5 separate regions of the Homo sapiens genome follow, and all the other regions are linked to region 1. Evidence: fine-mapped expression QTL. A gene starts in region 1. Each other region holds a variant in brackets. All regions are shown on one strand. Distances are from middle to middle. Region 1 holds the start of CNTLN (centlein). Region 2 overlaps CNTLN (centlein). Region 3 overlaps CNTLN (centlein). Region 4 overlaps CNTLN (centlein). Region 5 overlaps CNTLN (centlein).

Evidence for each region. PIP is the estimated chance that this variant, and not a neighbour inherited with it, causes the effect.
Region 2: its variant is the best candidate, but not a certain one, in a credible set for the expression of CNTLN in monocytes (BLUEPRINT, PIP 0.77).
Region 3: its variant is the best candidate, but not a certain one, in a credible set for the expression of CNTLN in prefrontal cortex (GTEx, PIP 0.63).
Region 4: its variant is the best candidate, but not a certain one, in a credible set for the expression of CNTLN in whole blood (TOPMed, PIP 0.81).
Region 5: its variant is the best candidate, but not a certain one, in a credible set for the expression of CNTLN in whole blood (INTERVAL, PIP 0.67).

What each region holds. Positions count from the first base shown.
Region 1 is chr9:17,131,571-17,138,181 of GRCh38, reverse strand. It overlaps CNTLN (centlein), which reads right to left and starts at 3,142. Exons shown (of 26, transcript NM_017738.4): 1 at 2,757-3,142. The coding sequence starts at 3,116. RefSeq lists an enhancer at 2,298-2,861.
Region 2 is chr9:17,401,433-17,408,043 of GRCh38, reverse strand. The region is part of intron 15 of CNTLN (centlein); the gene reads right to left. Among named protein-coding and RNA genes, the nearest start is that of SH3GL2, 170 kb to the left of the region's middle. The variant G/A (reference allele first, on the strand shown) is at 3,578.
Region 3 is chr9:17,422,016-17,428,626 of GRCh38, reverse strand. The region is part of intron 18 of CNTLN (centlein); the gene reads right to left. Among named protein-coding and RNA genes, the nearest start is that of SH3GL2, 150 kb to the left of the region's middle. The variant A/G (reference allele first, on the strand shown) is at 2,900.
Region 4 is chr9:17,435,166-17,441,776 of GRCh38, reverse strand. All of the region lies in intron 18 of CNTLN (centlein), which reads right to left. Among named protein-coding and RNA genes, the nearest start is that of SH3GL2, 140 kb to the left of the region's middle. The variant G/A (reference allele first, on the strand shown) is at 3,384.
Region 5 is chr9:17,326,580-17,333,190 of GRCh38, reverse strand. It overlaps CNTLN (centlein), which reads right to left. Exons shown (of 26, transcript NM_017738.4): 9 at 2,383-2,559; 10 at 461-586. Among named protein-coding and RNA genes, the nearest start is that of CNTLN, 190 kb to the right of the region's middle. RefSeq lists an enhancer at 521-1,167. The variant T/C (reference allele first, on the strand shown) is at 3,225.

The sequences.
Region 1 (6,611 bases):
AGAACACATTCTTGAAATATATAATCAAAATTAAAAGTGTAGTGGAGTTAGGTTCTAAATTAGTGAAATAGGGCATTAAATGCCATGGATGCAAAATTACCCTTTGGAACACCCTTGAAAAATTCCTTAGGAAAAAGCTACATTTGGAAGCTTACCTACTACCCTCAGTAAGTCCAATACAGATAGCTTTTCTTCCCTCATTGAAATTAATCACTTTTTCTTCATATAAGCATTATTTATAGTTCAGTTGCTAATCAGGGGGCCATATTTTTTTAAAGTTTAATTAGATAATACAATCACTTAGAGTGGGATGAGATGCTGATATTAAGAGAAACATTTGATTGCTTTCTATTACATGCTTATTCTGAGGCATTCCAATGATGTAGAATGGTATGGGGAATTACTCAAACTTCACCAAGCACACATCACTGAATTCCCATAAGTTGAATGTGAAAGCAAAACAAATTAAATGAAGCTACTACTTATGACCATGGACTAATTAGCAGTGTTCTTTTTCCTAAACTGTATGTTTCAAGCCTTGTTGGGTTCTGAAATTAATTTAGATCTGGACAGCATTTTTTAAAGGAATAGAACTGAAAAAATATCAGCCCACACAGTATTAGGGCATGTATTCTTTCTGAAAATATATGTTTGTATATGTGTGTACTTACTAGATTGAGATACAAAATTTTACTTCGAGTTGTAATTTTCAGCAGTTTTAATGCTATGTATTCTTGGGTACTGTGATCTCTAGCTGAATAAATAAGCGGGAGAGTATACTTTAAAAGATATAAAAGTGAATATTTAATCACCTAAATGCTTTTTACAAAACAATTGGGAGTTCAATTACTATTTTTCCCCAAGATTCCCGAAGAGCAGGAGTCTGATTTGACTAAGATTTTTATGGTGCGGGATACTGCCTACAATTATATAAGAGTATTAATATTACAAAATCTAAGAGATCATCATTCTAGACTATTATGACCATCTCTGTATTCTTACATTTGCCAAGAGTATGTCAATCATTTTCCTAGTCTATATATGTCCGAGGTCACAAAAGCCAACACCATGTTTGGAGCCACATTTTTAAAGAATGTAAGTATTTGTGGGAAGAGGTTCATCAGGCTGTTTCCAATAGACTGACTTCCTTAACCAAGTCGGTCATAAAAAAGTATCTTAGCTCTTTAGCCAGCTAAAGGCCTAACTATGTGGGGAGGCAGAAGTGGGAGGAAAGAGTGCGGAAAATATGCCAAAGAGTGTCTTAGATTAGGACTCAGAGTATCAAAGGCCTTTATCATGGGTTCACATCTTAAAACTCCCCAAAGGGTGAGGTCTGCAGATGACAAATGCTTCAATTCATTGTTGTCATTTATTTATCCCTTTGCTCCTTATCCAACGAAGAACAGAAAAATGGTAAAACGAAAAGAGGGCACCATATTAAATGTCCCAACCTTGTTTAACCAAAGGCACATTCAATTTGAAGATGGTCCCATTTTTACACCCTTCACTCAGTCAGCAAGGACCTATAAAATGGGCAAAAGAATCCAACAGAACAAACTATGAGAGAATGAATTTCTGTAATCCCAGCACTTTGGAAGGCCAAGGCTGGCGGACCACGAGGTCAGGAGATCGAGACTGTCCTGGCTAACACGGTGAAACCCCATCTCTACTAAAAATACAAAAAATTAGCCAGGCGTGGTGGCGGACACCTGTAGTCCCAGCTATTCGGGAGGCTGAGGCTGGAGAATGGCGTGAACCCGGGAGGCGGAGCTTGCAGTGAGCTGAGACTGCACCACTGCACTCCAGCCTGGGCGACAGAGAATGAATTTCATGAACTGTTTTATTAAACTGATGATACTGTTCACAAAGTTACTTTGATGTTCAGCAGCTCCTAATTGGTTTCTAAGTTGAAGACAGAGTGACTTAAAGATCTACTGTTCAGTGAGTTTCCCACATCCAATCTCCCAACCCTATCTAAAGGTTCTGGTAAAATCAAAAGAGATGATGGTAAGGATGCAAAACTAAAGGAAAATTCAATCTCTTTGAACATGAGTATAGTCAAGTCCATCCTTACAAAAACTCTACAAACAGGAAAGTAATTTTAATGCAATTGATTTAGCAAATGTTTTTCACTGGCAAGATCACATGAAAATGTGATTTCTCACTCAAGGACCGCGGAATTACCATAGCTGGTTAATAAACAAGTACCAAGCATCATCTATTGTTAAGTTCCCGGCTCTGAGACTTTCTAAACGTTACTCGTCTGTGTTTACAACTTAAGTTTGACTGGGTAAAAACAAAGCCAAGTGTGGGTTTGAAATTTTAAAAACAGGCTCCTTCATCGATGGATTTTACTCTAACCGAAGTGTTTACACTTTCCTGTTCATTTCAACTAGTGGACTGCATGTCACTCCTGGGCCCCCGGCAGGTATCAGCTACCGTCACCACCAAGAACTTGGGCTTGGGGGGGAAGCGGAGAGGATGCGACTGCGAGTATCCAAGTGACCAAAACCAAACCCGGGCGCGGAGGCGAAGCCTGTCTGGCCGCAGTTCGGAAAGGGGCAGGGGCCCGGGTTTGGGGAGCCGGGCGCAGCCGCGTCCCTCCAGCCCCCGGCCGCGAGCGAAGCAGGGTGTGCATCTGCCAGGGAGCGTCGCTGGGCGGGGTAGGTCCCAAGGCAGAGGGAGAAAGGCGCGCCTCCCCACGGGTCCCGGCCCCGCTGTGGTGGGGAAAGGGGGACTGCGAGACTCCTCGATACCTGACACAGGGCCAACTCCTCCTTTAGGCTGCTCAGCTCTTCCTCCAGCAGCTGCGTCCGGGTCACCATCGCCTCCTCTACCGAGATGCCCTCTAGCCGTCTGGACCCCATGGGCGCGCTGAGGAGGGGAGCATGAGCCGGAGCTGCCCCCCCAGGCCCTCGCCGGCCCCCTGACCCTTCTTCACCCACCCAGATTTTATCACTTTCGTCCGCGACCACCTCCCGCGCTGCGCCGGCAAAACCCGAGGCCTCGCTGCGCATTGCGTGTACTTCAGCTCCCCGCCCAACACGTGGGGACCTGGGGCCCAGCTGTCGCGCTGGGGGCGAAGGGTGCGGTGAGGGAGGCGAACGCGCCGCCATGGCTGCGGCTGCTAACGGGTCAAGTTCCCTGTTGGAAACTCCACCTCCCTTTCCCCAACCCGGCGAGCCCGGAACGCCGAACCGCGCATGCGCGAGGCTTTTCCCGCCTTGGCCCGCGGTGTCCCGTGTTCTCTGGTCCTGGCCGGCTTCCCGCGGGCAATGCGCCCAGCGCGAGCCTTGGGGTACGCACGCGCCGTGGCCCGAAAGGGTAAGGCCGGTCCGCCGGGCAGGCCATCCCAGCGTCCTGTGCCTGAGTCCTTGGCCAGGATCGCCTGGATTTCCCGCCCACCTAAAGCCCTGCCTGCCACTTACATCCCACCTCTTAAAGCCTTCCTTGACAAGCCCCCAGCCCCAAATGATCCTTAACTGTGAAATCCCTCTCCTTCAAGGCCCCTGCCAACTCGTGTGACACGTTTCATTGACCGCCCTGGAGTGTCAGTTACACGGCTAATCTCCCCAGCCCTGTTGTAAGCTCCTTGAGGATCAAGGAATACGTTTTACACTTAAGTGTTTTCTTCACACCCCTTGGCAAAACTGCTTTAGTACAGCTGACATCCAGCTGACTAATGTCAAGGAGATGTGGAAAGCCTTGTGCTGATCTGGGACTATCAAGCAGGTTTCCAACTTGAATGATGATCCTTTGTACACCCTTTGTCTTTTGTTTTGCAGGAGTCATGATTTCCTTTGAGTTTTTATGTCAGCTTCTTTATGCGTTGGCTGGATATCAGAGGAAGTGTAGCCCACATTGCTGAACAGTTTGGGTCCTTGGAGCAGTTTGAAATCAGTAATTTGGAGCGTGGATGAAGAAACAAGACCTACTTTATCTTTTGTTCTCTTTTTTTTCTTTTTCTTCTGGCTTTCTTTATAAACTTCAAATAGGTAGTAATCGTATCTTTCTTTGCCCTTCAAATACTTTGTTACTATTGATAAGATTAATGAGATGCATATTGAGCTGGCACCAGAACATCCCTGAAAGTTAGAACTGCCCTCTTCTTCAGAAAGGGTTCCAGAATACTTGGGGAAAGCTGAGATGGGGGTTGAGAGCAGAAGTAGAGAGATGACCACTTTACTGTTAACTTCATTTAACCAAAATATCACCATCTCTGCATGAGAATCTAGTCAGGATGCCAAAAGACACCCTCCCAATTAGAATCCTGCCAAGGCAACCAAGATAAGTGGACTTCTTTCAAACTGAAGGTGAATTCCTCACAAAAACTTATTAAAGAGTACATTAGAAAAAGTATGTTTATAAGCCTGTCTTAGAACTAGCTAACCTACTGAACATTTACCATATGCTGAGTCCAGTGCTAAGCACTTTTCATATATGAACTCACTTAATACATATGTCACCTTCAATTAGATTATTATATATCTCCATTTTTACTAGTGAGGAAACAGACTTGCAAGGTTACTGTAACTTCTCTGAAGTGCCATGTCTGGTATCAGAAAAGCTAGGCTTTGAATTCACTGAATTCCACTTAACTCTGAAAACCTGTACTTTGATCGCTACCCTGTCTCCACACCTGTGACTTGAAATACAACATTTGGTCTTGATAGTCTGTGAGATTTCACTAGACTTAAGACTGGGAAGTCTAACCACATAAGTTACGTGTTTGGCCCCAAATCAGTATTAATGCACATTTTTAATTGCTGTATGTCATTCACTCAAAAGGACATCATTTCACCTGATCATAAAAAGATCCTTTTGAAAAGCAGTGGTATAAATATGTATATGTGACCTCCCAAAAGGATAATATCCTGACTCTTTGACTAGGCATTTTTTTAAATTTTGTCTTTATTGGAGCAAAATACACAAAATACACAACATAAAATTTACCATCGTAGGCATTTTAAATGGCTACAAATAGGCCAGGCGTGGTAGCTCACGACTGCAATCCCAGCACTTTGGGAGGCCGAGGCTGGTGGATCACTTGAGACCAGGAGTTCGAGACCAGCCTGGACAACATAGTGAAACCCCGTCTCTGCTAAAAATACAAAAATTAGCTGGGAGTGGTGGTGCATTCCCGTAATCCCAGCTACTAGAGAGGCCACGGCAGGAGAATCATTGGAACACGGGAGGCAGAGGTTGCAAACAGCCAAGATCATACCACTGCACTCCAGCCTGGGTGATAAAGCAAGACTGTCTCAAAAAATAAATAAATAAATAAAATGGCTACAAATAAAAAACAATTCAGCAGCATTAACTACATTCACCATGTTAGGCAACCACCACCACTATCTGGTTCCAGAATATTTTCATCACCGGAGGCGGAAACCACATACCCACATTAGTCTCTCCACATTCTCACTGCCCCCGAGCCCCAAGCAACCATTAATTCCCTTTATGTCTCTACGGTTTTGCCTGTTTGGGATATTTCATATCAATGGAACCATATAATATGTGGCCTTTTGTGTCTGTTTTCTTTTATTAGCATAATGTTTTCAAGGTTCATCTATGTTATGGCATGTATTAGTACTTCATTCTTTTTTATAGCTGAAAATATACCATTGTATGGATATCCTCCATTTTGTTTATCCATTCATCTGTTAATGGACCTTTGGGTTCTTTCTGCCTTTTGCCTATTGTGAACAGAGCTGCTATAAACATTCACGTACAGGTTTTTGTCTGAACATTTATGTTCAATTTTTTGTTTATATACCTATGAGTAGAATGTCTAGGTCATATGTTTAATTTACTGAGGAATCACCAAACTCTTTTCCACAGTGGTTGTGTCATTTTACCTTCCCATAAGCAATGTATTAGCATTCTAATTTCTCATCATCCTCACCAACACTTATTTTTTGTTTTAGTTTTGTGTCATTTGCTTTTTTTAAATTATACTTTAAGTTCTAGGGTACATGTGCACAACGTGCAGGTTTGTTACATAGGTATAAATGTGCCATGTTGGTGTGCTGCACCCGTTAACTCATATTTACATTAGGTATATCTCCTAATGCTATCCCTCCCTCCTCCCCCCACCCGATGACAGGCCCCAGTGTGTAATGTTCCCCACCCTGTGTCCAAGTGTTCTCATTGTTCAATTCCCACCTATGAGTGAGAGCATGCGTTGTTGTTTGTTTTTTATGGCCAGTCTAGTGGGTGTAAAGTGCTGTCTCCTTGTGGTTTTCATTTGTATTTTTCCCCATGACTAATGACAATGAGCATATTTTCATGTATTTTTTGGACATTTGTTTCTCTTCTTTGGAGAAATATCTATTTATTCAAGTTCTTTGCTATTTTTTAATTGGGTTATTTGTCTTTTTGTTGTAGAGTTATAAAAGTTCTTTACTGGCAGACAATTTTTAAGAAAAGAAACGTGCACATTTCTAGAAGTATGCATAAGGAGTTCTTTCTTGTATTAGTTATTTGCTGAAATGACAGAAACGGATGAAATGTTAAATACAAACACTTATGACTCAGAAGGATAAGTTAAATATCTGCACTGCTATGTGAATAAAAATGTGCAAAACAATCAAGGTGTTTTTCCTGTTCAA
Region 2 (6,611 bases), 270 kb before region 1:
GCGATTCTCCTGCCTCAGCCTCCCGAGTAGCTGGGATTACAGGTGCCCACCACGATGCCTGGCTAATTTTTTGTATTTTTAGGAGAGATGGGGTTTCACCATGTTGGTCAGGCTGGTCTCGAACTCCTGACCTCAGGTAATCCACCTACCTCAGCCTCCCAAAGTGCTGGGATTACAGGCGTGAGCCACCACGCCCAGCCTCCCTGGTCAGTCTTGAATGTGTTTCAGCTTATCATGATGGAGCATCATGTCCAGAATTCAGTTTCATCTTCCTGGGACACTATGAGAGGTACTGAGTAAAACTCTTGGTAGATGCAGACTAAAAGTGTGTAAGCTTCTCTGGCGTATACATCATACTATAGACTCAAGTAAGATTTAACAAAACCACCTAAAGTATTTCAAATAAGATTTAACAAAACCACCCAGACAACTATTAAAGCCACATATTTCTCCCATTGTACAGTGCAACTGGTATTTTATAGCCAAATAAACTACCCTGTAGGCATTTGTGTAACTATATTCCCAGTCTACTGAGATCTTTGGGGATCTTGATTCTATTGTGTGACGTATTTTACATCCCTCTCAACGTCATGTTAATCACAATTTGATAAACATGCTTTGATGGAATTCAGATGTTCTGTATTTAGTGTAATTCTATTTTAAAAGGTTACTGGTTAGTCTGATAAGAATTTCCCTTGAAGAACTCATACTGGCTTTGAGAAATCACTACTTCTTTTAAGAAACATTCACAAAGTATTCTTTTATAATGTCCCAGAACCTTACTTAGGATTTATTTCAAAAACACCAACTATAGAATTACCCATCTTTGTGTTTTTAATGTCACAACTACACTTTTCTGTTTCCCATATTCTCATATCATTTGGGTTCTCCTTCAAAATACCAACAGCAATTGATCAAATCTACAAGTTATTTCAGTATCCCAGAATTCATTATTTCTGAATCAGAATACTATAATCTATTTGCTTATGTGTTCTACTATAATTGTTTACCTCTTTTTATGTTCTATTCCTCTTTTTTGTTTGGCCAAAACTTAGCAGAAATTCAATATGTAATGGCCAAAGTGGTATGAAAAGTGTCATAAAAAGCAGCATATTTCACAATAAGACACTCTCAAAACAAACTGTTTAGATTTGATTGGAGAGCCCTTGGTGGGGGGTGGGCAGGGGCAGAAGGAGGGAGACGTGTCTTAGTGATGGGGCAGAGTGCTTCCTTCTCTTTATAATTCTTTATTCATTCATTATTCAAAAAACATTTATTGAATGGCTACTATGCCCTATGCATGTGAAAGAATTGATGAACAAATTCTTTACAGTCTATCCATGAATAAATTTAGTCTATCCACGAAGAAAACAATAAGCACAATAAATCTGAAATATGATATAGTATGTTATAAATTATTAAGGACCACTGGGGAAAAAATGAGCAAGATAAGAGGAAGGAATCCAAATTATGGGAGGTAAAATGGTGGCAGGCTGAAATCTGAAATAGATTGATCATTAGTAATACTGAAGCAAAACTTAGAGGAGAGGGAGTTGGTTGTTTTAGATATCTGGCTAAATACATTCCAGGCAGAAGACATCAAACTAAAATCCCTAAGTTAAAAGTTCCTGCTTTCAGCGAGCAACAGTCAGTCCAGTGTAGGTAGAACACAGTAAATATGGACTAAAAACAAGGCTGAAAGCAGGGAGGGTGGTTAGGAAAGTTCTTTTCATATTCCAGGCAACTGATGATAGATATAAGAGTGATGACAAACAAAATTGATAAGAAATGGTCAACTTCTGGATATTTTTCTAAAGAAATCCACCAAGATTTCCTGACAGAGTAGATGTAATGACTGACAGAAAGACTGGAATCAAAGATGGTATCAAGCTTTTGGTCAGTGCAACTGTAAAGATAGAATTATCATTAGTGAGAAAGAGGAAGACAGCAGCTGAAATAGGCTTGGTGGGGTAAAGCCCAGGAATTTGTATTAGGCTATTTGATATCCAAGTATGATGCTAAGTTGACAGTCAACTTTACATGTCTAAAATTCAGAGCCTGACCAACATGGAGAAACCCCATCTCTACTAAAAATACAAAATTAGCTGGGTGTGGTGGCACATGCCTGTAATCCCAGCTACTCTGGAGAATCGCTTGAACCCAGGGGACAGAGGATGCAGTGAGCTGAGATCACGCCACTGCACTCCAGCCAGGGCAACAGGAGCAAAACTCCATCTAAAAAAATAAAAATAATAATAATAAAATAAAATTCAGAAGTGAGGTATAGAATGGATACATACATTTTGGGGTGGCTGGAATATAGGTGGTAACAATGATGTTAATAAATACTATGAGATCACAAAACAATGAGTGCAGCTTTTAATGTGTCCTCCAAAGTTCACATCTTGGAAACACAATCCTCAGTGCAACAGTGTTGGGAGGTGGAATCTAATAAGAGGTGATTAGATCATGAGTCCTCATGAACGATTTAATGTTATCATGGGAGTGAGTTTGTTATAAGAACAGGCTTGTTATAAAAGCAAATTTGGCCCCCTCTTGCTCTATCAGGCTCCTTGCCGTTCCACCTTCGGCCATGATGACACAGCCAGAAGACCCTCATCAAATGTGGCGCTCTCAACCTGGGACTTCCCAGCTTCCGGAACTGTAAGAAATAAATTTCCTTTCATTATAAGTTATCCAGTCTGTGGTATTTTTTTGTGTGTGTTGTTATAGCAACACAAAATGTCCACTGACTGAAGACAATGTCCAATGACTGAAGCTCTTAAAAATTGAGAGACTGAGGGGGAATGTCACAAAACTAACAAATGACACTGAAGTTAAATATCAGTGAGAAGAAGAAAATAAAGAGTATGGTATGGCAAACTATAATAACAAGAGGTAGAAATCAACTGTGTCAAATGCTGCTGAGAGGTCAAGTAAGGTGAGGACTGAGAATCAACCTTTGAATTTGGCAAAGTGGTAGTGACCCTCAAAATAATTGTTTTAGGCTGGGCGCGGTGGCTCACATCTGTAATCCCAGCACTTTGGGAGGCCGAGGTGGGCAGACTGCCTGACGTCAGGAGTTCAAGACCAGCCTGGCTAACATGGTGAAACCCCATTTCTACTAAAAATACAAGAATTAGCCTGGGGTGGTGGCGTACACCTGTAGTCCCAGCTACTCAGGAGGCTGAGGCAGGAGAATCGTTTGCGCCCAGGAGGTGGAGCCTGCAGTGAGCCAAGATCGCGCCACTGTACTCCAGCCTGGCAGACAGAGCAAGACTCTGTCTCAAAAAAAAAAAAAAAAATTTGTTTCAGAAGGATGATGAAGGGATGAATGGAATTTGAAACAAGGATTGTACACAACTTTTTAAAATTTCACTGCCAAGGACAGCAAATACAGAGGACTACTAGGTAAAGGAGTACTAACAGGTGTATAATGAATTCTCTGGTTTCCAAACATGGTCCTCCTAATTTTACCTCAATAATTGGGATAATTGCTCTGGCTAATACCGTAGCTCCTTTTGACGCTTTTTAGCTCAGTATAGGGAATCCAAAATGGCCAGGGTACAATCTCAGC[G/A]TCTACCTCTACAGACCATAATTGTGTTCCCTCAAAGAACTTTCCTACCTTCGGCATCAGGACTCTCAAATCCCCTAGCCCAAGATCATACTAATGAGAAGCAAAAACTCCTCCAGTGGGTTACTTGGTTAAATAATTACAGCGGCCACGCCAACCTAAAATACTTTATTCCTGGACCTATGCATTCTTGGAGATAAAATAATAAACTCTCAGTTTAGGGCATATACCCTAACTTCAATATTGTCTTCTAGCTGGTGCCATAACGGAGCCTATTGATCATCTACTGTCGTATACAGCCAGTTGCCTTTGAATAATGAAAAATATAGTAATACCAGTGAATTTGAAGACACAGAGCATTGTCATATATCCCTTGCCATAAACTCTGTCTTTTAGCTGGGCTTGGTGGCTCATACCTGTAATTCCAGCACTTTGGGAGGCTGAGGCAGGTGAATCACCTGAGGTCAGGAGTTTATGACCAGTCTGGCCAAAATAGTGAAACCCCATCTCTATTAAAAATACAAAAATTAGCCGGGTGTTGTGGCACACATCTCTAGCCCCAGCTACTTGGGAGGCTGAAGCACGAGAATCGCTTGAACCCGCGAAGCAGAGGTTGCAGTGAGCCAGGATCACACCACTGCACTCCAGTCTGGGCAACAGAGCGAGACTCTGTCTCAAACTAAGAAGAAAATGTGTCTTTCAGTCTGCTTCTCTGGGAAAATGCTGACTAGGCCACCTCCCTACCTCCCAGTCCTACCTCCAAGGTTGAGATCAAGATTGAGCAAGTGCATCCAAGGAGGCAGTTTTCTGCAATATCATAGGGATATATAAGTCATTTTGTAAATCTAAGAATGGTAATATTGGTAAAAATATAATAGACAAAACCATACCTAAAATACTTAAAACTACTGTAAAAAAAAAAAATTGATGCCTCCTCCATGATGGAAGAGGCCTACTGTAATCAACCTGACACTAAGAGACTGGTTGGTTTCCTCTGGAGAATGAAGCTTTTTTTTGGGATTTGCAATTGGTCTTTTTTGTGAACAGGCTGAATATTCAACAGTGCCAGTAGCCCAGTCGCCAGACAAGTTTTGGTGAAAGAAAGTCAATTTTGTTCAAAAGCTTGCAAGGAAAAATTGGAAGATTAGTGGCAGGACACCTGTGCCATGTAGAAGCTATACCTGTTGCCATAGCCACTTTGTTCATGAACCCATTAAGCAAGCCCTCAGATAGCTGTGAAATAGGCAAGATCTATACAATGGGTCATTTTGTTCACAGAATGGGCTTTGTGTGTATCTCTTCCAAAAGGTCCATCCACGAACCTCCCCACAGACCTTCCTGCCACCAATCTTCCACCAACCTTCCCACAGACCTCCCTGTCACCAATCTTCCAACTTTTCCTTCCAAGTTTTTGATATACTGAAAAATGCCTCTTTTGACGCACTCCCTCAACATTGATCTCAATCTTCACTACTTTTTTTGGAGTGGGAGTGGGAAGTAGAGAGGTGGATTAGTCAGGGTTTTTCTGGAGAAATGGAACCAACAGGATGTATGCATGCACGTATATATCTTTAGGAATTGGTTCATGTGATTGTGAAGGCTAGGAAGTCCAAATCTACAGTATGGCCCAGTAGGCTAGAGACTCAGGAGAACTAATGGTGTAGCTTCAGTCCAATTGCCAGCAGGTGGAAACCCAGGAAAGTCAATTTTCTAGTTCTAGTGTGAAGTCTGGCAGGCTAGAGACCCAGGAGAGCTGATGGTGCAGATTAAATCTGAAGGCAATTTTCTGGAGAATTCCCTCTTGCTCACAGAGGCCATTCTTTATATTCTATTCAGGCCTTCAACAGACTAAATGAGGTTTATCTCCATGCTGGAGGACAATGTGCTTTATCCAAAGCTCACTGATTTAAATGTTAATCTCATCCAAAAACACATAACAAGTTGATACATAACCAACAGAGGGGGCTACTGTCCCTATAATTCAGTTTCTTTTCACAGTGTCATCCCCTCCATGTGGGACTTAGTTCAGTGAGGAAGTTCTGGTCTTTTGGTATAGATAGCTCATAGAAGAACTGTATTTTTCTTTTCTCCGGACACCAATTTTCTCTCTCTTGATACAGTGCAAGTCATACAGCTGTCGATGGCTGTCCCTACCTGTTCATATTTTGGGTTTGTCACTAATTCTATTGTAGATGCTATCCTTGAGATTTTGGCTATGCCTTCCTATTTGTTTTGTTTATTTTGATGGGGGATTTGTGGAAATAAAATATCTGCCACTGCTGCAGCCTCTTCCCAGTAGTACTAGCTTTTTGAATAGAGAACAGTTGTCAACAGAAATCGCATAGCCTTAGGTGTCTATATGTGGTTCTTGTCATGCTTGTCAGGCATTCCACATACCACCTCTGTCTGCTACAGACATATTCATAATCTTTGGTTCACTGAGTCATCTCCTCAAGCCATTAATATTTCCTGTCCATAGCACTGCCCATTTTCTATTGATGCGTCTTTTTATATAATTTGTAGATGATCTTTAAATCTTCTGGATATTAGTCCTTTACCTTCTTTATGTGTTGTAAATACCTTTTTCTGGTTAGTCATTTGACTTTTAACTCTTTTTATATATCTGTTACTATATAGATGTTTAAAGTTCTATTAACGCTTTTTCATATCTGGCTCTGTATTTTCATCTCTTGCTTAAGTATACTTCCTAGAGATGCTCCAAAGTTATAAACAAGTAATCTTGTAATTTCTTGTAATACTTTTAAAATTTTCATTGTTTCATTAAACCTCTAATCTAGGCCAAGCACAATGGCTTGCATCTGTAATCCAAATACTTTCTGAGGCCAAGGCAGGAGGATCACTTGAGACCAGAAGTTCAAAACCAGCCTAGGCAATGTAGCAAGATCTCATCTCTACAAAAAATTTGAAAAATTAGCCAGGCACGGTAGCACGTGCTGTAGTCTCAGCTCCTAAGGAGACTGAGGTAGAAGGTAGCTCGAGCTCAGGAAGTCGAGGATGCAGTGAGCCATGATTGTGC
Region 3 (6,611 bases), 290 kb before region 1:
GTCACAGTTTATAAAGATCAAATAAGAAAAATACTAAGTTTGCAAAAGCTTCCACTGTGCAAATATAACCTACTGAAAAACAAAATCAGCTTTTTCAAAAAATAAATACAACAAATCAAAATAAACTTTTGAGAAGGCATACAGTAGCTGAGTCATTCAGTAGGCATATGAACTTATACAAGTTAATTTCTGTAAAATGGAGATAAAAATAGTATCTAATCTCACAGGGATGTTGTGAAAATTAAATGAATGATTGCACACAAAGTGCTTAGAAGATGCCCTGTACGTAGTAAGCACGTAAAGGTTAGCTATTCTCACTATTATTATTATCATAATCTGTCTGGACTAACTTTTCCCCATTAATATTTATTATCCTTCTTCTGTACTGCAGGGCAGTGTACTCATGAAGTTGAAAAGTGCAAGAGGACTCCTAATAAACCTGAAAGTGACTCTGCTAATTTTGTTACACTACCTCTCATCCTTTGGGCCTTGGTGTCAATGTCACCTTCTCAGAAATGCCATTCCTTGAACAAGGGTGATCTAAAACCAACCATTCTCTCCCTTTATCCCTAATTACAATGCACTCTCTGTAATCTTTAATTATTTTACTTATTCTGTTGCATGGTTATTATATTCTGTCTCTTACCACAAATAAGCTCCATGAGAGTAAAACCATACCTGTGTCTAGTTCACTGTTGTGTTCCCATTATACTTCATGGACCCTAGCACACAGAAGATACCCAAGCAATGCTTGATGAATGAAAGAATGATCTTAATGGGTTACTATGCAGCCAAATTTGGAAATCTGAGACAAGAGGAAAGATGACTACTATGGTACAGATGTGATAATCCACCGTTGAGAGCCCCAACACTGGCTTACTTCAACTAAGGGCAATAATATTTTCAAGGATCAGTCCTTAAATGTTGGTAGTTTTAATTGCCTTAGCCACCAAATACACAGAATCATGAAGTAAAGAAAATATTAAGTGGGAAAAGGAATTGGAATAGTATTGAACTGTCATGCCTATATGTATTAGTATGATTTGTCTTTGTTCTTCTAGTAAATAATTTAGAAAAAAAAGAAAACAGCCACTGAAAGTTCATGTGAGATTTACAGGCTAAAATACACCCACTGTACTCTTTACTCATGAAATTTTAAATATTTTGTTCAATCTTTGATATCATATTTGACAGGAAATACAGGTAAATTTTTTTTAAACTATCTAAAGATTGGCAGTCTGGAAGACAATATAACCTGAAAACCCTCTGTATCACATAGAAAATATATGATATCAAGTATTCTTTTCGAGTATTGCTGAAAAATCTAAAAAAAAAAAAAAAAAGAAGCAGCAACTCAAGTGCTGGGATCATAGTCACCTATAGAGAGCAGCCAGCAGCAGAGCACGGAGCATGTGACTGGAGGTTCGGTAGCACCTGCTGCATGGAAATCACCAGGGCCAGCAACTTCAGGAATTGTGGGAGCAGGAGCTGAAACTTTGACCTTGGGCTCGGAGAGGCCAAATTTGAGAATCCTCTGGAGTGCTGCAACTTCAGTTCAAGGGTAGACTAAAAAATATTGCTAGGATAGAAAGGTAATAAAGAAATATGTCTCTGATTGGGACCAGGGCAGAGTACAAAAATTCTCAGTTATCTCTACTGGGAATGTTTATATCTGTGACTTTACCTCATGTGGGTTGAAATCTGAATTTTTCAGTGTAGGTCAGGAATCTTACTACCCTGAAAATTAACATAAATATTAAGTAGTGTAGTCTGGATGAATGCTCCCCAAAGACAGGGTTCAAGGAATTACCACAATGAATTACAATTTTAATTTGCTGAGCTGCAAATTAAAACTGTACACACATGTAGAAACATCCCATCCTGGCTCAAAGTAATCAGAAAAAATAAACAGGAAGATTAGAACCTCAAGAACATGTGACTTGAAAGAATATATAAGTTTGTTTAAAATGATTAAAGATACAAAAGAAGAAATTAAAGTCCAAGAAGAGAACAAGAGTTCATAAAAAAGATTCTAATAACTCAAATAAAATTATTACATATATAAAATGTATATATATTATATACATGTACATATGGATATAAATACAACATGACAAAAATTTTGGACTTTAGCTCTCTCAGATAACAATATGTAAGATGTAGGAAGACTATCGAAACAAGACAAACAGTAAATAGTTTTAGATTAATGGATATTAGTCTACTTTTTACACTTTTAAAAATTCTATTTCTTACTACAATTTAGAAGTTATACACTTTCTTTCTCTTTAAAACCAATGTGGAGGTAGCTCTAATCCCTTAGCCTTTGCACTCTGGGCCCGTGATGGGAGTGGCAACATGGCAATATGTGAATTGCTTTTGGGGTCCTTCTCTTTTCTTGAAAGATTGTGCAGGTTTATAGTTAAATAGATCTATTGGCCCATCCAGAAAATCCAAGAAGTTTGACAGCTTTCCTTCATTGTCTATTTCTTCATTTCCTTTAGACCCAGCTGGTTGCTCCTGGCATAATCCAATCTCTGTTCCTGATTTCTGCTAAGAAGGATTAGGTCCCTGGTTCACATTCACACAAATCTCCTCATCAAATGATTGTACAGCCACACTCTTAATGTTCTCTTCAAAACAACCTTTCTCGTTATTTGCACTATCAGTAGGCTGAAAAATATCCATATCTTCCAAGTTGTGGTATACTTATGCTTAATAATTTCTGTTCAGTTTATCTCTCTCCTTTAGATTTAACCAAGCAATCAGGAGAAATCAAGCCATTCCTGTAATGCTTGCTTAGAAATTTCAACCAACTTCATCACTCACAAGTTCTATCTTCTACAAAACACTAGAACACAATTCAGCCAATCCAAGGTTTTTTTAAAAAAAATATTTTATC[A/G]TAAGGATTGCTTTTCCTCTAGTTTCCAGTAGCATGTTCCTCATTTCCATGTGAAACCTCAGTAGAATCACCCTTAACCTACGTATTTCCAGCATGCACCTCAAAAATCTTCTAGCTATTACCCAATTCCAAAGCCACTTCCACATTTGATGTGTTACTGCAGCACCCTGTTCTTGGCACCAAAATCTATTAGTTTGCTTGGGCTGTCAAAACAAACCACCAGACTGGGTTGCTAAAAGAACAGAAATTTACTTTCTCACAGTTCTAGAGGGCTAGCCATCTAAGATCAGGGTGTCAGCACAGTCAGCTTCTAGCAGCAGATCGCTTCCTGGCTTGCAGATGCCAGGTGTCTTGTTGTGTCCTATTATGGAAGAGAGAGTAGAATCGGGTGTCTCTTATTATTATTATTAGGACACTAACCACATGATGAGGGCCCACAGGACCTCCTTTAACTCTAACTACTTCCCAAAGGCCCCATCTCCCAACACCATCAAACCAGGAGTTAGGGTTTCAACATGAATTTTGGAGGAACACAATTCAGTCTGTAGCAATAATACAACTCTTGAAACCAATTTTGTTATTTAAACAAACATTGAGAGATAATCAATAAAATAACTCATCCATTCATATATAAATGAATGATAAAGGTTACTCTGTTTTCGCTAAATATAGATATTATTTCAGGAGAGAGCTTTTTAGAAGATACACTAAACAGCATGTATAACTCCACAAAAATTTCATGTGATATCCGTCTTAGTTTGCTGTCTATTTCTACAACAGAATACCACAAACTAGCCAATTTATAAGAATAGAGTTTTATTTAGCTCATGGTTTGGGAGGCTAGGAAGTCTAAGAGCATGGTTCCGGCATCTGGTGAAGGCCTTATTGCCAGGTCATGACATGGCAGAGAGCATTACATGGTGAAAGGGCAAGAGTGTGCCAGTCAGCTCAGGTTTCTCTTCCTCCTGTTATAAAGCTACCAGTTCCATCATAGGGACCCTGCTGATGACCTTATGTAATCCTAATTACCCTACCTCTAATCAACATAAGAATTTAGGGATTAAGTTTCCAACACATAAAACTTGGAGGACATATTGAAACCACAGCAAAATCTGTCAGCTGAAGTTTTATACATATTTAGTGCCTACTATAAAACATTCAACAGACTTTCTAAAAAGTGTGCTATGGGTAATGGCCACATTTTCTTTGATAATATGATTCTGGTAGTTTGTCTCTGTGAGCTAATACTGTTTGAGTCTTTAGGATGACACATATGTTACTAGAAAGAGGTATCCACAGCCATAATACACTTAAGTAATATTATTGGAACAAAAAAAGAGAGCATTTACATCCTGTTAGTCTTAAGATTTGGGACTAATTTTCATGTTTCAATTAAATTATGAGTAACACCTTTAAGTCAAAAATCTGATCATTCAAACTGGAAGAGTAAGTCAATATAGTCTGCCTTACCCTATTTCTATCCCTTGATGTTCACTTTTGCAATACAGATTTTAATATGTAAGGAGAAAAAATACATTGTTTTAATCAGAAACAAATTTTAAGAAAATTTACCTTAAATATATTCTAACGAATTAAGTTTAATAATAAATGAGATTGAGGGAGGGAAGCAGAGCAAAATGGCCAAACAGAACTCCAGTGACTTTCTTCCCTCAGAAGCATCAAATTCAACAATTATCCAGGGAAGAAAGCACCTTCCTAAGAACCAAAATTCAGGTAAGCAATCAGGCAAACCAGGTTAAAAGCTGGTTTTAACATCATAGCAAAGAAAGAGGCACTGAAGAGGGTAGAAAAGAGAGTCTTGCATTGCCTACATCATCCTTCCCTCATTCCCCAGCAGTGCTACACTGAGCCGAGAGAGAATCTGTGTGCTTGGGGGACAGAGCAAAGTCCTGTCACAGCGGAACACAACACAAGGCGGAATTCTGCTGGTGCCCAGAGAAGGTGCATTTAAACTATCCCCGCCCTAGAGGAGTCCTTCACCCCACTGGTAGGAAACTGACTTCCAGCAAGCTCCACTACCAGCTAACTAAAGTGTCCTGCAGTACTGAATAAATATGAAAGGCAATAATAAAATCTGCGGTCCTTGGGCAAGTCTGGGTGCTGTGCTGGGCTTGGAGCCAGTTGAACTGAAGTGCACATAACCCACTGAGACATCAGTTGTGGTAGTAAAGAGAGTGTTTACATCACCCCTCCCTTTACTCCAGGCAGGGAAGCTCAGTGAGAGACTCCTGATTGCAGAAAGGAGAAGGAAGAGTAAAGAGTACTTTGTCTTGCAACTTGGGTAAAAGCTCTGCCACAGTAAAATAAATCACCAAGCAGATCTCTGAAGCCCCAGATTCCAGGCCCTAGCTCCTGTACGGCATTTCTAGACCCACCCTGGGCCAGAAGAGAACCTGCTGCACTGCAAAGAAGAACCCAGTTCTGGCACGATTCATTACCTGCTGACTAAAGAGCCCTTGGACCTCAAATAAACATCAGTGGCAGCCAGGCACTAGTTGCCAAAGGCCTTGGGCAATAACCACTATGTTGCTAGCTTCAGGAGTGACCTAGCACAGCCTCAGCAGTGGTGGACATCGAAGTGACTCAGTCACCCCTCTCCCAACTCCAGGCAACCCAGCATGGAAGGAGAGACTCCTTTTGTTTGGGGCAAAGTGAGGGAAGAGAATGACAGTCTCTGTCTGGCAATCCAGGGAATTCTCCTGGATCTTACCTAAGCCCACCAAGGTGGTACAAGTCTGCAAGAATCACAGTGTTACCGGGATTAGGGTATCCCCTAGCGGATTTGTGGCTTCAGTGACCCAAGACTTAGGTCATAACACTCAATTCCTTTGAATATCTAGAAAGCCTTCACAAGAAGGATGAGCACAAAAAAGCCCAGAATCCAAAGATTAGGATAAATACCTAACACTTTCATGCCCAGACACCAGCAAACATCCACAAGCAACAAAAACACTCGGGAAAACATGACCTCAATAAATGAACTAAATAAGGCACCAGTAACCAATCCCAGGGTGACAGAGATATGTGACCTTTCAGACAGAGAATTCAAAATCACTGTTTTAAGGAAGCTCAATGAACCAAGAAAACACAGAGAAAAAATTCAGAATCCTATCAGAGATATTTAACAAAAATATTGAAATAATTTTTAAAAACCAATCAGATATTTTGGAGCTGAACGATTCAATTGACAAACTGAAAAACGCATTAGAGTCTCTCAACAGCAGACTTGATCAAGGAGAAGAAAGACTAGTGAGCTTAAAGATGGGCTATTTAAAAATACACAGGAGAATAATTCACGTATCAGAGGGTGATAGAATTAAACCAAATAAGAGATTTAACCCAAAGAAGACTACCTCAAGGCACTTAATAATCAAAATCCCAAAGGTCAAGGATAAAGAAAGGATCCTAAGAGCAGAAAAAGAAAATAAATAACGTATAAAAGAGCTCTAATACAGCAGACTTCTCAGTGGAAACCTTACAGGCCAGGAAAGAGGGACATGACATATTCAAAGTGCTAAAGAAAAGAACGTTTATCGTAGTGTATTATACACACCAAAAATATCCTTCAAACACTAATATGAAATAAAGACTTTCCCACACAAACAAAAGCTGAGAATTTTGCCAACACCAGATCTGTCCTACAAGAAATGCTAAAGGGAGTTCTACAACCTGAAAGAAAAGGATGTAGATA
Region 4 (6,611 bases), 300 kb before region 1:
TGTTTTTTTAATCCATTCGGCAACTCTCCATCTCTTGACTGGGGAATGTAATCCATTTATATTTAATTACTGATGGTGAAAAAATTTCCTATTGCTACCTTGTTTTCTGTCTTATAGCTCTTTTGTCTGTCTTTTCCTCTGTTGCTATCTTTCATTGTATTTCATTGATTTTTTTTTTTTTTTGCAGTGACACGTTTTGACTCCTTTTTCACTTTCTTCATGTATCTTCTATAGGTATTTTCTTCGTGATCACCATGGAGCTTACATAAAATATATTGTTTATAACAATCTTTTAAGCTCATAACAACATAACTTCAATCACATACAAAATATTCATACGTTTACTTCTCACATGTAATTTGGTGAAACAAATTACATCTTTTTATATTATGTATTCATTATCATATTTTTAGTTATGTTTTTTAATACCTATTATTGTAATTTCTATGCCAGAATAAAAAGTGATTACACACCACTGTTTACCTTTACCAGTGACCTTTATACTTTCACATGCTTTTAAGTATTGCTGTTTAGCATCTTTTTGTTTCAACTTGAAGAACTCAGTTTAGTATTTCTTCTAAGAAAGGTCTAGTGGTGATGAAGTCCCTCTACTTTTGTTTGTCTGGGAAAGTCTCTTTCACTTTCATTTTTGAAGACAGTTTTGCCAGACATAATATTCTTGGTTGGCACGTTTTTATCTTTTAAAGGTGGTGTACACTTCTTTAAGTTTATTTCTTAAGGATGTTTTGTATATTTACAGAGTTGTGCAATTATCACCACACACTAATTGTAGAGTACTTCTAAAGAACCTCATGCCCATTTACAGAAACTCCTTTCCCATCCCTGGCTCTAGTCAACCACTGAATCCAATTTCTGTCTATGGATTTTGCCTTTTCTGGACATTTTATATAAGTAGAATCATACTGTATATGGTCTTTTATTATTAGCTTCTTCCACTCAGCAATATGCTTTCAAGGTTCATCCATATTGTAACATATGTTAGTATTTTATTCCTTTTTATTAATGAATGATAATCCACTGCATGGATACACCACAGTTTTTTCTCCATTCATAAGTTGATGGACCCATAGGTTGTTTCCCCTTTGGGCTACTATGAATAATGCTTCTATCAATTAATGTACAAGTTTTTTATGTGAACTTATGTTTTCAGTTCTTTTTTTTTTTTTTGAGACGGAGTCTCGCTCCGTCGCCCAGGCTGGAGTTCAGTGGTGTGATCTCGGCTCACTTCAAGCTCCGTCTCCCAGGTTCACGCCATTCTCCTGCCTCAGCCTCTCGAATAGCTGGGATTACAGGCGCCTGCCACTACGCCCGGCTCATTTTTTTTTTTTTTTTTTGTATTTTATTTTAGTAGAGAAGGGGTTTCACCCTGTTAGCCAGGATGGTCTCGATCTCCTGACCTCATGATCCACCCGCCTCGGCCTCCCAAAGTGCTGGGATTACAGGCTTGAGCCACCATGCCCGGCCGTGTTTTCAGTTCTCTTAAATGTATACCTGGGAGTGGAAATGGTAGGTTATTTGGTAACTCTATGTTTCACTTTGCGAGGATCTGTCAAACCATTTCCCAAAATGCCTGTGCCATTTTACATTCCCATAGCATTGTATGAAGGTTACAATTTCTCTATATCCTTATCAACACTTGTTAATGTTTGTCAACTTATTAGTCTCAGCGATCCAGCTTCTGGATTTGTTGATCATGTCTGCTGCATTTTTACTTTCTACAGTATCAACTTTGCCCTTATTTTAATATTTCTATTTTATTTGGGTGTCTTAGTTTGGGCTGCTATAATAAATTATCATAGACTGCATGGCTTAAATAACAAACATTTACTTATTATGATCTGGATGGTGGGAAGTCCAAGATTAAGTTGTGGATAGATCTGGTGTCTGGTGAGGCCATTCTTCCAAGTTGCCATATGGCAGAGAGCAGAGAGATCTCCTGTTTCTTCCTCTTTTTATAAGGGCATTAATCCCATCATGGGGGCCCCGCCCTCATGAACTAATGTAACCCTAACTAATTCTCAAAGGCTCCACTTTTGAAATGATCACATTGGGGGTTATGAATTATGGGGGAACACATATATTTAGTCTACAACACTGGGTTTATTCAATTTCTCATTCTTAAATAAAATGTTTAGCTCTGTGATTCTTAGACTTCTTCTAATCTTACTACAAGTATTTAAGGATATAAATTTCCATCTGAGTACCACCTTAGTCACATTCTAAAAGTTTCCATCTGTGTTATTTCATTGTGATTCAATCTAAAGTATTTTTCATTTTCATTTTGTTTTCTTCTTTGACCCATTAGTTTTTAGAAATGCCTCTATAAATTCGCATCAGATATTTTTAAGTTAACTTTTTAAAGTATTTTCTACTTCACTTGTGTTAGATAATACTATTTATATGATACAAATCCTTTGAAATTTATGGAATGTTGTTTTGTGGCCTAGTTATGTGAACATTTTTGATAAATACTTAGAGAAAGACTTTTTATTGCTCTGTTAAAATAATGTATATCTTTAATGACTTTTTATCAGCATTACTTAAAAGTACTGATATTATCAATACATGAATTATTTATTTTGAGCCTAAGTTATTAGATGTTTATATTTTAGAGGCTCTCTGCTCCCTTTTCCAGCAAATCTCCTCAAAATAACTCTAAAATGTATGCATATTTAATTATATCCTCCAATTCCTCTCTTTCTGTTCCCATTCCTCAATTCCTCCCATGAACTGATTCTAATAAGCAGCAGTTGGCATAGAGAATGATAAAGTATATCATTCCCTTCTTGATATACTTTAACCATTTGGCTTCTAAGATTCTCTTTTCTCTTGCTTTTCCCTTTCACTGGCTCTCCTTTCTGGTCCTTTCTCATCTGTCCAACTTCTGAATATTGGAGGGCCTAGAGCTCAGATCTTGGACCTTATCTCTTTTGTACCTATCTCCACGCCCTTGGTGATTTCATTCAGCTTCATTTTTAAATGCCATCTACATACTCATGGCTGCAAAATTTATATGTCTAGCCCAGGCTTATCCCCTAAATTTTAAACTCATATATCCTACTACTTACTTGATATTTCCAGTTCACTAACAAATTACCATTTGGCTACAAACGATAAGCTGTTGTTGATTTTAGATCCTAAGGATTTAGTTTCTTTTTAATTCTTTTTGCAAGTTCTAGTATGCATTTATGAGGCCCTTTTTAATATTTTATTCAACTTTCTTGGTATTTTCTCACCACAATATTTAGTGTATTACATTGTCACAAATACAATTCTTCTATCATCAACTTTCTACTCACTTTGTTAAAAACCTGAAAAATATCTTAAATACCTCTTTTTTCTTTACCTTCCTATATGCAATT[G/A]GTCATCAAACTTTTGGGATTATAACACTGCAAAGTCTCTTGTTTTTTAAAAAACTTTCTATTTCTACTAATATTGTCTAGATCTCTTCCTAATCATCTTTTGCCTTGATATTTAAACAATAATTTATCTAGTTGCTTGCATTCAATCTCTAGTCTCTCGAGCCTTAGTCTCAGTCCTTATTCTACATCAGAATCACCTGAGAGCTTTAAAAAACTACCAAGGTACAGGGCCTAACTCTTAGATATTCAAATTTAATTGGTCTACGGTCAGGCCTTGGCACAAGTATTTTTCAAAGTTCCCTAGGTGAGAATAATAAGTGGTCAGGGTTGAGAACCACAGCCAAACCAGATTATTCACTATTCTCAACAAACTGCTATGTCAGCTAGATGTCTTTTCAAGCTATCCTTTCTTCTAATGACTTTGTTCAATGCACACAACTTCCAAAATCATACAAAACCTTAAGGTTAAGCCCAAATACCACTCCTTCAAAAGCCTTAATCAAGAATGACAGGAACGAATAACTCTCTCTCTCCACATGCATTTAAACATCCATGTTATATATACACACACACACATATACATATATATCTCTATATCTCACAGTTTCCTTTTATTATTATACATATGTTCAACTGTGTTATTATCGGGGACAAGGTTCATATTTAATTCATTGTTGAATATTCCATTATTATAGCGCTTTACATGTGTTAGGTACATTAAACTAAATTGAATTGTAACAAACATACTTATCCATGTGCATACAAATATTCTAGTCATTTAAAACCAAACTCTAAAATATATGCACAGTTAAATAGTATATCAATTCAATAGTGATAAATATGCTACAATTTTTCACTTCCTGAAACATTGATATTGATGAGACACACCTATCTGAAAGTATGTTGATGTAAAAAATCAGGACACTACCAGAAATATAAAATTGTGCAATATATTATAACACTGCTTTATTTTAAACAGAAAAGAAATTTCTAACTGATGCTATTCAGGTCACATATTCTCATATTAATATTTTCTTTGGTAAGATAAGAAATGAATCTGAAAACAGAGTATAAGAAGTGCAATTTTATAGTATACAGTGTTCCAAGTGGTAATAATAGTTTCCTACAAAGTCTAATATAGGACACAGATATTCTGTTAACAAATACCACTTGCTTCATCTAGAATAGAAGACAGGACATAGGAATAAGACAGTCACGTCCAATTCCACATGGATTCTCAGCTCTGATCCTGGGTTTTGCACAGTTTGCCTTGCGAACATGATCCGAGTGACATTTCACAAATTCCTGGATAAATGTTGCTACACTCTGCTAGGAGAGAGACAGGCTATGTCACGCACAGATCAATAACCGCACTGTGTTTCATCAGCCTCAAAATCAAAAGTGCTTCATCTGGCAAAAGCCACGGCCCTAGAGAATCTGACGTATATAAAATGAATACCCTACAAGGAATGTGTACTACACAAACTATTGGGGTAAGGTAAAAGAAAACTCTGGAGATTAGCAATAAGGTACAAAAAGAGTAGTTTTCTACTTCATTATTACTAGCGGTGTGAACACAGATCACAAAAACGGAAATGAGGCTATTTAAAATTCTGCAATTCCTGACAGGAAAAAAACAATGGCTCTGGTACAGTTTAATACCTTTTATCTTTCAAATAAGAATTCTGTAAATAAATATAAACCAAGGACAAATATAAGTTTGGATACAGTAACAATCACATAACTCCAAATACAGAAATTTTTAAAATGAAGATCCACGAAATAAGGCCCTTTTAGTGTTAAAGGGTTGCTAAAGGTCTCTTCAGATTTAGTAGTTTTCATGCTCAATGTTTATATGCTAGATTAACTAGAAAACCCAAGGCATTTGTTGAATGGGCTGTGCTCTGCTGTTTTTAATTCCAAATTCTGACACTTAGCAAAAGTCTTTTATTTGAGGCTTGATTAAACTAATTTAAGATTATTTGGTTAATGTAATTGGACAACATATGAAGCAAATTTGAAAGCTCAAATTCTAAAAAGGAAACTGCTTTAAGATTGCCATTGCCGAAAAAGTTTCTGCAGCAAAACGTGCTTCTGCAGAATTTAGCTGGATCTGACTCAGACGGTAGGGGAATCAATAATTCATCAAGAAATCAGAGAAGATAATGATGTTTAATCATAAACTAAACAATAGTATATAATGTTTTCTATGAATATTGAGAAAATATGTAATATTTATCAAATTATGGTGTGGGCACTATAGAACATACAAAATTAGGTAAAGCATATTCTTGCTTTTAAATTGTTTATAATGTAAAAAGGTAAATAAATATCACAAAAGGAGGCTAGACCACCACTTGGATAAGAATAAGGAAATACATTTATTTGTTTCTCTTATATCCCCTAGCCTAGAGGCACAGCCACATTCTAATATAAAGATCTGGAAATACCAGCTGGGTGGACGAGGGCTAGGGAATTTGTTACCTTGACAGGTCAGATGGGAAGTGTGCCCGTAAAAAAGGAGCTACCCTGGCCGGGCACGATGGCTTACACGTGTAATCCTAGCACTTGGGGAGGCCAAGACGGGTGGATCACCTGAGGTCGGGTGTTTCAGACCAGCCTGGCCAACGTGGTGAAACCCTGTCTCTACTAAAAATACAAAAATTAGCCGGACGTGTTGGCATGCACCTGTAATCCCAGTTACTCAGGAGGCTGAAGCAGGAGAATCTCTTGAATCCGGGGTGGACAGAGGCTGCAGTGAGCCGAGATCGCGCCACTGCACTCCATCCTAGGCAATAAGAGCAAAACTCTGTCTCAAAGAAAAAAAAAAAAAAGAGCCACTCTTTGAGTACTCTCACTACCTTTCATAGTCTAAGGTCAAATTCCACTTCATATTTCAAAATGCTCCTCCTACCATCTTTTAATCATAGTCTTAACAGCCATTGTGACAGTGTGTTATCTTAAATAAAAGTTTAAAAGGTACCGTTTTTGGAGGGGTAGTTATACCACTGTAATGCAAATGCAGTATAAAAATAAATTCATAAAAATAACTAAGTCCAGAAAGCATTATTGGAACAGTAAGGGCTTTGTAGAAACTATAAAGCAGATGAGACCAGAATGAGTGCCTCTCTTTCCAAAAATATCTCTTAGAAACAAACAACAACCAAAAAACAAAACCACTGAATATTCCTAGTAGAACTCTAGGCACTAAGCTCCAGAACCGAGGTA
Region 5 (6,611 bases), 200 kb before region 1:
TGAAATGAAAAAATATATATATATTTCATTTTGACTAAATGTAATTTTTCTATAAAGGATAATTGTAAGTGATCTGAGCTAGGTTAATATGCTTTTAAACTCACTTTCATTTACATATGTTTATCATATATAAAGAAGAAGAAATTCTCTTTTCACTTGCTACAATTCTATTTTTTGCCTTTGGGAAAGGGTTAAGAAATTTATTCCCAATTTTAAGACAAAATATTACCAAATAACTTGAAAGTAGTAAATAAACATTTACTTTTCAAGTAGCAAATATTTTATATTATTTTATCATCCTCAGAAATCTTAATAACAAGATGAACTGATTATACACTTTTATACAGGCAATTAAATTCAGGAAAGAAAAAGGACAACTAGTAATCTATGAACTGTATGTTTACTTTGGTATATTTTTATCTTTGCAAGGTTACTACTAAAGAAATGATTTAATGTTCACCTTTAGTTGTAGTGCCTTCTCTAAGTTTTCAATCTTTCTTTCAGCTTTTCTCAGCTTCTGTAGCTCTTCTGAGTCTGTGAAAGAGCTCTTTGGGGACAAAGACCTTGAACGTTTCACAGGTGGTTCCTCGAGAATAAAACAAGGACATGGTTGAACTAGTTGGAACACTGGATTATGAAAGACATGCAAAATTAAAGAACAAGTAATTTTGAATACTAATAATGAATTATAAAAAAAAAAAAAATCCTGCATGGAATACCAGAGAAATAACAAGCGGAATTACCACAGTGCTACCGCTAAAGGTTTCTCTGTGACTCGTTAATGAGAATATTCATTTACATTTACATTGTTTCTTTCAGAATAATGATGTCCCATTAGGGAAGACTAAAGGGTTATAGACTCAGAAATGCAAGAAACCTCATTACAAAGGAGGGGATAGAGGCTGGTCTAATTGCTCTATAAGGGTCCAAGGTTACACTTGATAGGACAACCAGAAACAAGAGGGAAAGGATTTTTTTCCCTTTGAAATAGTTTAACACACTGTGAAGTTGAAGGAACAATATGCTTGAGGAATATAAATACAACAGACAGTAGATCTTATACCATAATGACCATATGGTCATTAACTATAATGTGGCTAACTAGAGACAAGAATACGTTTATATTATGTACAGCTTCATATACCAATCTGGAGAAAGAATATGTGAAAGCAACTATTAAGCTGGGCAACACAGTGCTCATCCTTACTGCATGGCCTTACAAAAAGAAAGAAAATTTTGGCCATAATACCCCTCTCTTTTTCTTGACTTTTATTAAAGGCAGAAAAAAGTCAAAGTCATACATTTTTAAATTTCAGCAATCGAGCAAGCAACCAAATTAGGCCCGGTAATGCTGTATTTCAATTTTATGAATGTTTTCTTTCATTTAAATAAAGTTCAGTGCTTGTGAAACTACTTCAAAATGGCAAGAAATGTATAATGCAGTTATGTTTTAATAAATAAATCTCATTTTCTGAAAATTACTAATAATTTCAGAGAGCATGAATAACAGTACCACAGAAACATGGTTCAAATTTTAAATACTTCCTTTATTAAGATAGTTTGTCCTACCCATAAGAAAAAATGGAAAGAAACAAAAACAATTATCTTAACAACATGGCTTCCTATTATAAAAACTATTATTCCTTTATTGCTGAAGTAACAAGCGTGTGAAAAATATGCTAAAACTCTTACTCTGAGGAAAATGTTATTTCAATTTATCTAGAAATAATGTATGTACTACATGATATTTTAGAATTTTTATATTAGTCAACATTCTGTAGAATCTTTTACAGCGTAACACAACTATGTAATGAATACTAAAAAAAATTGAGACATTAATAAACGAGAAACATGTAAAATTTGCTTATTTTTCTCTTAATGCTATCCCTTTAAATCTATAAAAATATATAACAAGTGCAGAAGTTAGTGTTAAAATTCATTTACTATTTTATTTTCCACACAGACAGTATTTTAAACATCATATCTGATTGAAAGACATATTAGATATATTTTTCTTTTAATTCAAATTAGAAAAGTGAGTAAATACCATTTAAAAATAAATTTTTAATCAGATAGATTAATATATGAGAGAGATGAGGAATACTTACCAAAGTTTTAATATAAGAATGTTAATTTACTGACAAAATGGGTATAGCACTAATAATATATTTAATTAACTAATTTGGGAATATAACTCAGTCTTTAAAAAGGGAAAACTCCTTACTCCTAAAACTTATTTAACAAGAGTTCGGTACATAATATTTTTCAAAAGTTTCCCGAAATACAAGCAGAGAAGTAAATGCTGCCATTTGTTTTTTAACTTCATCTCTTGTCTTTCCAGCCTCATCCTGGCAAATTCACAAAATGACAAAATGTCCCTACCTTATGTTTTCCTTCAGCACTTGTCATGATGCTCTTTCGGGAGAAACCCTTGTTGGCAGATATGTTTTCTGACAGTTTTTCATTTGCTATCTTTAGTTTCTCCTGTAAATACTCAATTTCAGACTTCTGTGAAACCATTAACGTTTCTAAGCTTGATAAGGATGGGCGATGAGGTACCTATTTTAAAAAGTATAATTGTAAATAGATATCTATGTTTGTATCTTACATTATTTATAAATAAATAGTTAAATGTAACACTATATTATAGAAATTGTAAATATTCAGAGAAGGAAATTTTCCTTTTAATAATAAACTAGCAGGAGCTGAACCTTTTCATTCCATAGAATAGTATTTTCCAATAAAATAACCAAGAGTCTATATGCAAGTATTTTCATAAATAATGCTGTCATATAGATTTCAAGGAAAAAAATTTAAAGCATGGCTGCATGATACACACCACTCATCTATAAATGAGTCATTTCAAATTTCTGATTATACACATATGTATTGCCTCACAAAACAGTCAATCCACCATCTGGTCATCAAGAGTCATACAATACCATAGAATATAAACCTGGGAAAAGGAAAACAACAGCATTATAAGTACAATCAGCTTTTACTGTAAACTAATTTAATAACAACTCCTCAAAGAACCCTGACAATTTTAAGTCAATATAGTTTACAGCATTCTCCTTTGAAATTTATTCATGTTTCAGATAAACTGCTAATGGTAAGCTCCACATTTTAACAACAGAAGTCACAGGAAAACTAATCTTGTAGGAAACCTGTTCATGAAAACTGGAATTCTGCAAAATTTGACTACCATCTCCACTGAATGTATT[T/C]GAGGCCATTAAAACCCATGCAAATTCGCTGTTTCAAATTAACAACTACATTTACAAAAACAAAAACACAGAATCACATGAAAACAGTTTTTGTTGACTTACAGGCAAACAAATGTCAAATCTTATGATTCTAACATTATCAATAAGGATCTAGTAGCCCTGAAAATATTTGCACTTAAACTGATGAAGGGCCCCATCCTTCCTAAATGATATTCCTAAGTACTATGAGAAAAATATATACGGTTAACTTTTTTGAACCAACAATGGGAAACATCATCCTTTTCCAATTGTGCCTGCTTTTTTCTTTTTTGAGAGGATACGCAAAATTTTCCTAATTCTAACCTGCAATTTGTATAATGAGAGGGACCATATTTGATTTATACTATTACACTTTTCTCATATTTAAATCACCTCATTTGTTTCCAACCTTTATTCTACCATATGATTATCTTCCTCAAAGTATTGTTTACATTGTACTGTTACCATACTTACAATATATTACTTATTTCATTATCTTGCTTTGAACATCAAATTAAAATATTTTAAGCATTTCTCTTCCAGGAAGTCTAAATGATTTTGCCCTATTCTTTTATCCCCATTTTAATCGTTGTACAACTTTTATTTTTTATCTTTTCTCCTGTTTTATAGTCAAACTTCTGAGGTTTAGAAATATTTCCTTTGGTTGGGCTGCCAAGCTAAACTATTTCAAAGGCTACCTGCTCTTGTCTAGGTTTCCTTTAATAAAATTATAAATGTTATATTAACATCCTATCATATACAAAATAAATTTTAAATAATTTGTTTAAGGTCAAACAAAAACTTAGAATAAAATCAGAAAAACATAATTTTAGTTTATTGGTATATCCAACAAGCAAACTTGTGTTCGTCAATAAATGAACTTCCTAAGTCATCAATGGATTATAATGCTATAGCTAGGAATATTATAAAATTAATATTCAGTCAAGAAGCTATGATAAATAACTCAAATATAAGACATTAACAATGCTCCAACAGTGGATACTGTCACTATAATAATGGATTCATTTTTAATATTTCTACTGATATTATATTAATGATATTAATATTTTTGATAACAATAAAGGATATTTAGGCAGCATTCCTTCAAAATTCCTCAATAAAAAATCAGAGAACTTCACAATTAAAATACTATCAAAGAGTGAATAGAAGCCAGGAAGATAATGCAGATAAATAAATATGTGTTTTAAAGTAATAGCTTTAAAATTCATCCAACAGAGGCATTTTGCATACATATTAACCAAGTAGATATGTTCCTCCCCTTCACAAAGTAACTTATTCATGTTCCCATTTTCTTTAAGTCTGGTTTGTCTCTCTCTTGCCTTTTATCACTTTTGTTACAGACATGTTTACAAGAAGTGTTTTACATTTCTCCTAATAAAACCATTTTTTTAAGTATTAAATATGAGCAAAATGAAGTGTCAACACTCAGCCCCACTGCTGAGTGGTAAGGAGGGAATTCAGGGCAGTTGCCGCTCAACTCCAGCCAATTGTTTTCAGGGAAGAATGTGCCCCACTGTTGCTAGATTTACTGATTTTTCACGAAAAGCAAAGAATTAGGATTTCTAAGGAGAGTGTCCAAATTTTCAAATGTTGGTTGGACCCAGTTTATGGGTTACTTTGAGAATGTGGTAGTGGGTAGAAGTATAATCTGCTATCAATTTTCTAGAGAAATTATGAAAGATGCATCAAAGCTCATAAAAATGTACCAAACCTTTAATTTACTTCTAATTATGCTGAAGGCTAAAATGGAAAGATATCTATGATAAACTGAGAAAAGTAGGGTACAAAAGGGTATATTATATGTAGAAATAGATTTCACCAAACATGCATAAGGTACAAAAACAACCCTGAAATGTTACAGTGTGATTTCTAAGTAGAGGGACTGTAATATGAATTATTTTCTTTGTACTTACCTGAATTTCCTTAAAGATTTTACAATGGACATGTCACTAAATGCTTTTTTTTTTCTTTTTTGAGACGGAGTTTCACTTTTGTTGCCCAGGCTGGAGTGCAATGGTGCAATCTCGGCTCACTGCAACCTCTGCCTCCTGAATTCAAGCAATTCTCCTGCCTCAGCCTCCTGAGTAGCTGGGATTACAGGCATCTGCCACCATGCCCAGCTACTTTTGTATTTTTAGTAGAGAAGGGGTTTCACCATGTTGATCAGGCTGGTCTCGAACTCCTGACCTCAGGTGATCCACCTGCCTCGGCCTCCCAAAGGGTTGGGATTACAGGCATAAGCCACTGCACCCGGCCTAAATGCTTTTCAAAATAGAAATATTTATTTTTTTGCAAATAAAATGACTATGAGTTCAATGTAAAAATTTCAGTATAGGTAAGGGAAATATAAATAAAAGTCTCTTCACAATCTCATCCCTCAAAGTTCCTACTAGTAAGTTTGTGATATATCTCTCAGACTTTGAAAAAAAAAAAAAAAAGGAAACAGCTGGGTGCGGTGGCTCATGCCTGTAATCCCAGCACTTCGGGAGGCCGAGAAGAGCGGATCACGAGGTCAGGAGATCGAGACCATCCTGGCTAACACGGTGAAACCCCGTCTCACTGTGGCAGACGCCTGTAGTCCCAGCTACTCGGGAGGCTGAGGCAGGAGGATGGCCGTGAACCTGGGAGGCGGAGTTTGCAGCGACCCAAGATTGCGCCACTGCCCTCCAGCCTGGGCAAGAGTGAGACTCCATCTCAAAAAAAAAAAAAAAAAAGGTTAACTACTATATTTTTGTCATTTAACATACTTTTTAAAAATTAATAGACTTTATTTTTTACAACAGTTTTTTTATGTAAAGAAAAACTAAGCAGATACTATGCAGAGTTCTCCCTGACCTCCTACCCCCACCCACTCAGTTTCCCCTATTATTAACATCTTAAATTAGTATGGTACATTTGTTACAATTACTGAACCAATATTCATACATTATTAGTAACTGAAGGACATAGTCTATTCATATTTCCTTAGTTTTTTCCTAAGGTCCTTTTTCTGTTTCAGGATCCCATCTAGGATACATTACATTTAGTTCCTATATCTCCTAGAGCTCCTTTTGGCTGTTTTCTCAGACCTTCCTTGTCTTTCATGACCTTGACAGTTTTCTGTAGGATGCCCCTCCTTTGGGATTTGTCTGATGTTTTTCTCATGATTAGACTGGGGTTATGAGTTTTGAGAAGGAAGATCATAGAGGTAAAGTGCCATTTTCATCACATCATATCAAGGGTATATGCTATCAACATGATTTATGACTGTTGATATTCAGTTTGATCACCTGGCTGAAGTAGAGTTTTGTCAGATTACTCCACTTGTAAAGCTACTCTTTTCTCCCCAGCCATACTGTACTTTTTTAC